Linked DNA regions of Homo sapiens. The protein of the gene in region 2 purifies or fractionates together with the protein of the main gene of each other region. This does not show direct contact. Each region holds a gene or a part of one and is shown on either strand. Other genes may lie near its edges.

Region 1 (3,825 bases), on a different chromosome or scaffold from region 2:
TAAAATCTCCTTCCATAGACTCGATCTTCTCTCCCACATGACCTCACCTCTCCCCCACAAGCTCACCTGCCTGGAATATCTCTACCCACTCTTCTTCATTGGCCACACATCTACCCATGGGACAAGTCCTAGTCCTAAGTGTACATGCTCCAATTGCCTCGCCCAGTGACTAACTTCTCCCTTCTCCTCTCTCTGGACTACAGCAGTACTTAGATTAAGGACACGTATTCACACACCATCCTTACTGGGCTGATCGTACTAGTCTGTCTCGGACTCCACAGCATTATGGTTAAGAGAGTGGGCTTTGGAATGAAGCACACAGATTCAAATTCCAGCTCCACCCCTTACTAACTCAGTGACCTTAGGCAAGTTTCTTAATCTCTCTGTACCTCAATTTCCTCAACTATAAAAAGGAGATAATTAGGGTAGCTACCTCATAGAACTGTGAGAATTAAATGAGAATATATGTAAAATACTTCTTATCAAGTTTCTGAATGAGCATTGAATGAAAAAGGAATGACCACCACTGTCCTCATTTTACTAGAATGAGGGCAAATGCCAGGGAAAACTCATCAGAAAGACCTTCAGAAAGAAGTGCAAAACACAACAGCACACTGAGCAGGACCCTATAAGAATAAGAAAGACACAAGGGATCCTAATAGTAATAGCTGCCATTGATTGTGTACTACTGCCAGACACTGGGATATGTGCCAGATATTTATATACATTCATTCAACATCCATTGATTCAACTAATACTTATTGAGACCTAATAATAGATTATAATCTACTGATGGAGATAGAAACTAACCAAATATTTACCAAAATGTTTACATACATGCAATGACAGTTGTCATGAAGAAAAACCCAGGTTGTCATGAGCATATACAATGAGGTTGGGTGCAGTGGCTCATGCCTATAATCCCAGTACTTTGAGAGGCTGAGGCAGGCAGATTCCTTGAGCCCAGGAGTTCGGGACCAGCCTGGGCAACAGAGCAAAACCCCATCTCTATAAAAAAATAAAATAAAAATTAGCCAGGCATGGTGGCACATGCCTATAGTCCCAGCTACTTGGAAGGCTGAGGTAGGAGGATCACTTGAGCCCAGGAGGTTGGTGCTGCAGTGAGCCAGGAACACGCCACTGAACTCCAGCCTGGGCAAGAAAGGGAGACCCTGTGTCAAAAAAAAAAAAAAGAAAAAGAAAGAATGCCTGACCTACTCTGGAGGTGGGGGAAGGTTTCTCTGTGGAAGGAATGGTTAAACTGGTATCTAATGGAGGAATAGAAGTGAAATTTGAGGTGTGGAGGGGAAGGGAGTATTCTAGGCAGAGAGAAAAACCTATGCAAAGCGTAGAGGGAGGGTTGACGGAAGAAAATGCTTGAGAAGCTAAAAGGAGAGCCCTAGAGTTGAAGCACAGCGGTGGGGGTGGTAGGCAACAGATACGGCTGGTGAGGTCGGGGGGCCAAATCCCTGAAGACCTTGTCTTTACCCTAAGAGCAATGGGAAGCTCTCAGGATAAAGGGAATGTTGAAACAGAAGACTGCTTTTGTTTTATTTTGCTTTTATCCTTTTAACTATAGTTGGAAGAATAGGCAGGAGATGGCCAAAACTGGATGCAGAGAAATTAGCTGAAGGCTAATATTCTAGGCAAGAGAGAACAGCACTTCAGCTAGAATGGTGGTGGAAGCCAAAAGAGTTATTTAGGAGGTAAATTAGACAAAATATGTTGATAGAATACGGGGAAGGAATCAGGGGTATCAAAGATGATCCATAAATTTCTGGCTTGGCTAATAGGGTCGATGGTAGCACCATCCACTGAGATATGCAAAACTAAAAGACTGGGTTGAGTGGGGAGATGGGGGATGGTAAAAATCATGAATTTGGACTTACACATTTCAAGTCTGAAGTGTCCTTAAGACCCTTAAGTAGGTGGGGAGCAGTGGCTCTCACTTGTAATCCCAGCACTTTGGGAGGCTGAAATGGAAGGATCATTTGAGGCCAGGAGTTTAAGACCAGCCTGGGCAACATAGTGAGACCTCATCTCTACAAAAAATTTTAAAAGTTAGCTGGGTCCAGTGATGCACTCCTGTAGTCCCAACTACTCAGGAGGCTGAGATGGGAGGATTGCTTGAGCCCAGGAGTTCAAGGCTGTAGTGAGCCATGATTGCGCCACTGCACTCCAGCCTAGGCGACAGAGCAAGACCCTGTCCCAAAAAAACTTTTTTTCCTTAAAAATAAAAATAAATAAATAAATAAAAAGATGCTCAAGTAGAGGTGTTAAATGGGCACTTGGATATATGGAATGTGGAGTTCTTAAAAGTGAGCTTTGACCCCAGAAAATTGATGAGACCTCCTTGGCAGAGTAAGAAAAGAAGGGGCTCTATGACCAAGGATTGAGGGACTTTGACATTTAAATGCTAGTAGAGGAAGGTAAGCTAGCAAAGGAGCAACCAGAAGAGTGCTGTATACTAGAAACCAAAGAAAGTGTTTGGCATTAACAGCTGAAGTCAAGTGTATACAAACTATATGACCCAGTAATTCTGCTCTTGAGCATATACCTTAGAGAAACTCTTGCACATGTGCACCAGTAGCGAAGGTCAAAAATATTCATAGCAGCATTGTTCATAATAACAAAGTTGGAAACAATCAATATTAGAGTAAACTATAGTATAAACACACAACGGAATAAATACCATATAACAGGGAAACGAAATAAACCAGAGAGGTACACACAACAACAAGAAAGAATCTCACAAATGCTGAAGGTGGAAAGTAATTGGAGACTATATACTGTACAATTTCATAATACTACAAAATGCTACATAAAATTCAAAGTATAACATGTATAAAGCTCAAAAGCAGGCAACTAAATAACACACTGTTGGATTGTATATGTAGATGGTAAAGCCATTCAGAAAAGCAGGGAATGGTTACCACAAAAGTCAGGATAAGGAAGGGAAAAGGACCTGATTCAAGAGGACCACGAAGGCTTCTGAAGTCCTAGTAATGTTCTTTTTCTCTAGTCTGGGTGGTGGTTACATAGGTGTGCACTTTATTATTACTGAAAGTGTACATATAGATGTTTTACTCTTCTGTATGAATGAGATACTTCATAATAAAAATTTTCATTTAAAAAAATAGGCCAGGCACAGTGGCTCACGCCTGTAATCCTAGCAGTTTGGGAGGCCAAGATGGGTGGATCACCTGAGGTCAGGGGTTCAAGACCAGCCTGGCCAATATGGTGAAACCCTGACTCTACTAAAAATACAAAAATTAGCTGGGCATGGTGGCACATGCCTGCAATCCCAGCTACTCAGGAGGCTGAGGCAGGAGAATCACTTGAACCCAGGAGGCAGAGGTTGCAGTGAGCCCATATTGCACCACTGCATTCCAGCCTGGGTGACAGAGTAAGACTCTGTCTCAAAAATAATAATAATTTAAAAAATAATAATAAAATAAAAGGAGAGGGTGCCCAACTGTGTTCAACACTGCTGAGAATTAGGATGAAAGTTCAAGATGTGCACTCTGTTTAACCCTGGGGGGACCGAGAAGGGAGTGAACTTATCCAGAGCCATTTTGAGAGCTATAGGTATTGTGATTACCAGTTTACAAATGAGGAAACTGAGAAGAAGAAAAATAACTTGCCCAAGCCCCACAGATAATAAGCAAGGAAACTAGGATTTGAACTCAAGTCTGACTCCAAAATCTAGACTTCTCATCCTTGTTCTATATTGCCACTTCACATGATTACTGTAAAAATGCTATAAATAACCTAAATACATACAAAATTATCCAGCAGGAAACAGTTAAGTGTAGTTAAGTATGA
Region 2 (3,825 bases):
GCTTATGCTTGTCTTTCAAAAATCTACAGTTACATATGTGTATGTATATTAAAAAATTATGCAAATATACACCAGAAACTTAACTTTCATCCTTGGAGAATGGAAATAGGGGATTCCCTTTATGAGAGTGAAGAGAACATTTACTTTCTACACTTCTGAACTAATTAAATTTGTCAACCATGAGCAAATATTACATTTACAATTTAAAAAATTTAATAAAAACACAATAAATAAAATGCAGAGCCTTGCCTGTAGGCTTAAATGGAAGAGCAACCAATGGATTCATACAGATATGCTATAAATATACTGTATGCATGGGAATGAATCCAAATTTTAAGTCATGTAATAACAAGTAATACTGGAGAGTTACATGTACTTAATAAGTGGCTCATTTTAGTCTTTTAAGTACATCATTCTGTGACTGAATCTAGACACAATTTGTAAAAACTGGAAGAAAAAAACTATCTAATCCATTACCTCTCTGTATAGCCTGCTCAGTTTAGCAAATAACCAGAATTTACTTTTGTAGTTACATACAAAAAATTTTTTCTCCTTTTCCCTTACCTTGCTACATTAAAAAAGAAAGTCCCTCAAATTTTGTGTAGCATATTTGTTTTGAACCAAAACCCAAGGAAGGCCAGGCACAGCGGCTCACGCCTGTAATCCCAGCACTTTGGGAGACCAAGGCAGGTGGATCGCTTGAGGTCAGGAGTTTGAGATCAGCCTGGTCAACATGGTGAAACTGCATCACTACTGAAAATACAAAAATGAGCCAGGCGTGGTGGCACGCGCCTCTAGTCCCAGCTACTCAGGAGGCTGAGGCGGGAGAATTGCTGGAACCCAGGAGGCGGAGGTTGCAGTGAGCCAAGATCAAGCCACTGCACTCCAGTCTGGGTGACAGAGTGAGACTGTGTCTCAAAAACAAAGCCAAGGAAAGTCTCCTTGCTAATAGACTTGAAGTAAAGGGTTAAAGATTTCTACCACAGATGCTATGCACATTAAATCCCCAGGGAATGACAACAGCCCACAATGTACCAGGCACCAGGCTACGCTCTGCAGACAACAGCGCTCAGATATTCTCAGCCTAGTTGCGGAGATGGGCTAGGCTAGCAAAGTTACAAGAGAGTGATCCTTGGCTTGCTACACATTTCACAAAACACTCATATTCCATGTGCTGAAAATACTGTTGTTTTCCCAGGTTGAATGTCAGTTGCTGATATCCAGCAATGCAAACTCCCTAAGAACATTCCATTTTACTCTACAGTAAACAAACAAAAAATCATCTTGAGATAGATGTATTAGGGCTAAAAGTTTCTCATTTTCCACAGCCCCGTTAAGAACAGGCACATCACTTTAATCAGACATATTTAATCAGTAAAAACTGTACATCTGGTTGAAGAACGGACGCCACGCTGTAGTTCTGCACTAAGAACTGAGCTCATTTAATGGGGGTGGCGGGGGGTAGGGGAGGCTCCTTAGTTTTTATATCTAGCAAGTAGAAGAGTATCTGAATAAATAAAATAAATAGGTTGAACCACGAAAAACTGTTGACATTCAACTATTTCTGACATCCCAAAACAGCAGTTTCATACCGTTCAACCTAAGAGAAGATGTACCATAGAGATGCTTGTTAAATGATGGGCTATATAAGTAATAAAAGTTTTGTAACTAGTAGAGTATATGGACACATGCTCAGAAACCCTGATCTCTGTCATTTCTGGGCACGATATTTCAAAAGTACATTCGTTTCACTCATTCTTTTATGTGCACAATGCTACTTTCCTTTGGTCAGGGATATTTCTGAATATCTGATTTTTATCTTTTGTTTTTCAGTGACATTCATCCAGAATCCTTCAACTTGCAGTGGTTTTTCAATGACTCTTGTGCACCTCCTACTGGTTTCAATAAACCCACCAGTAACGACACCATGGCGAGTGGCTGGAGAGCATCTAGTTTCCACTTCGATTCTGAAGAAAACAAACATAGGCTTATCCACTTCTCAGTATTTTTAGGTCTATTGCTTGTTGGAATTCTGGAGGTCCTGTTTGGGCTCAGTCAGATAGTCATCGGTTTCCTTGGCTGTCTGTGTGGAGTCTCTAAGCGAAGAAGTCAAATTGTGTAGTTTAATGGGAATAAAATGTAAGTATCAGTAGTTTGAATTAATTTGAGAAGTACACTTGTTTTCAAAGTCATCTTTGAGATGATTTAAAAAATCAACCCTTCACGTAGAAAGCACGTTGTAAATGCATAACACTCTCATATCAGTGGTTGATTTGGGAAAGGTGGAGAGAATTTTCAATTAGTTTTGTGTTGTACTATTCAAATTTTTTACCTCTTCACTGTGTGTAGAGAAAGGAGAAGGGAAGGAGGATGAGAAGGAACGGAAGTCATCCTGAAAATAAAAGTACAGGACTTTTTTTTTTTTTTTTTGAGACAGGGTCTCAAAAAAGGCTGGAGTACAGTAGTACAGTGGTGCTATCTCAGCTTACTGCAGCCTCAACCTCCTGGGCTCAGGTGATTCTCCCATCTCAGCCTCCCTAGTAGCTGGGACTACAGGTGCGTGCCACTATGCCAAGCTAATTTTTGTATTTTTAGTAGAGATGGGGGTTTTCCATATTGCCCAGGCTGGTCCCGAACTCATGGACTCAAGTGATCTGCCTGCCTCAGCCTCCTAAAGTGCTGCGATTACAGGCATGAGCCATCGCGCCTAAAGGACAGGACCTTTTTATTGTATTTCTTTAAAGAATAAATACATAACCTGAATGCAATCAAGTCTTTAGATCTAATTCTCAGCTTGCAGGGAACACTAGGACAAATCCAAAAAGTGGGTCAGCGGGCACAGAATGGCCCAATTTTCAACAGGAAAATGTTATAAAAGAAAAATATTTTTGAGGGAACTGTTATAGATTAAGAGAATAGAGGCATGTTTCAGCTAAACACATGTAAACTTTGTCAGAGATAATTGGGAGGAGTATGTAGAAGAATCGGATTATTGTTAATTTTGGTAGGTCTGATAATGGTTTTATAGTATAAAGGCTGAGTACCCCTTATCCAAAATGATTAAGATCAGAAGTGTTTTGGCTTTCACATTTTTTTGGATTTTGGAATTTTGCCTATAATAATGAGACATCTTGGGGATGGGATGCAAGTCTAACCACAAAATTCATTTATGTCTCATACACACTTTGAACACCTGGCCTGAAGGTAATTTCACACAATATTTTAAATAACTTTGTGCATGAAACACAATTTTGACTGCATTTTGACTGCAACTCATCACATGAGGTCAGGTATGGAATTTTCCACTTGTGGTGTTACGTTACTGGCTCAAAAAGTTTTGGATCTCGGAGCATTCTGGATTTTGAATTTTTGGATTAGTGATGCTCAACCTGTATACAGAAATGTCCTCATTTTTAAAAAAAGAAATGCATATTTATATGTTTTAAAATTACTTCAACCAAAAGCAACGGGGAGATGTTTACTGTTATATTTAGGTGACAGGTACATGGCAATTCATTATACCCTCCTATTTTCCTATGTTTACATTATTCATTAATTAAAAAACAATACCTAGAAAAACCCAAGACTTTCAAAAGCTATTTTCTATATGTGCCAATCTTTAAAAAACAGGATAACAAGGGTATTTATCACATTAAAATGTTGTAAAACAGCAAAGCTAAAAATCTAAAATTTTCTGAATGTTATTTCTATATTTCAATTGTTTATGTTCATTGGGCTTAAGGTTCCAGAAATAATTTGCAGTACCTACATTATAGCTGCCTAAATAAATTTAGTAACATCAAGAGCTTATAAGCCTTTTTTCTG

Evidence for each region.
Region 1: the proteins of TM4SF20 (region 2) and ATP23 purify together in Homo sapiens (affinity purification with mass spectrometry; one large-scale study listed by BioGRID and IntAct). This does not show direct contact.

The regions. Positions count from the first base shown.
Region 1 is NC_000012.12:57,947,897-57,951,721, reverse strand, and holds part of ATP23 (mitochondrial inner membrane protease ATP23 homolog), read right to left. Parts: intron 1,009-3,825; exon of another isoform or gene 838-1,008; intron 1-837.
Region 2 is NC_000002.12:227,362,021-227,365,845, reverse strand, and holds the end of TM4SF20 (transmembrane 4 L6 family member 20), read left to right. Parts: intron 1-1,833; coding exon 1,834-2,122; 3' UTR 2,123-3,808; downstream 3,809-3,825. UniProt on the Homo sapiens protein: Polytopic transmembrane protein that inhibits regulated intramembrane proteolysis (RIP) of CREB3L1, inhibiting its activation and the induction of collagen synthesis.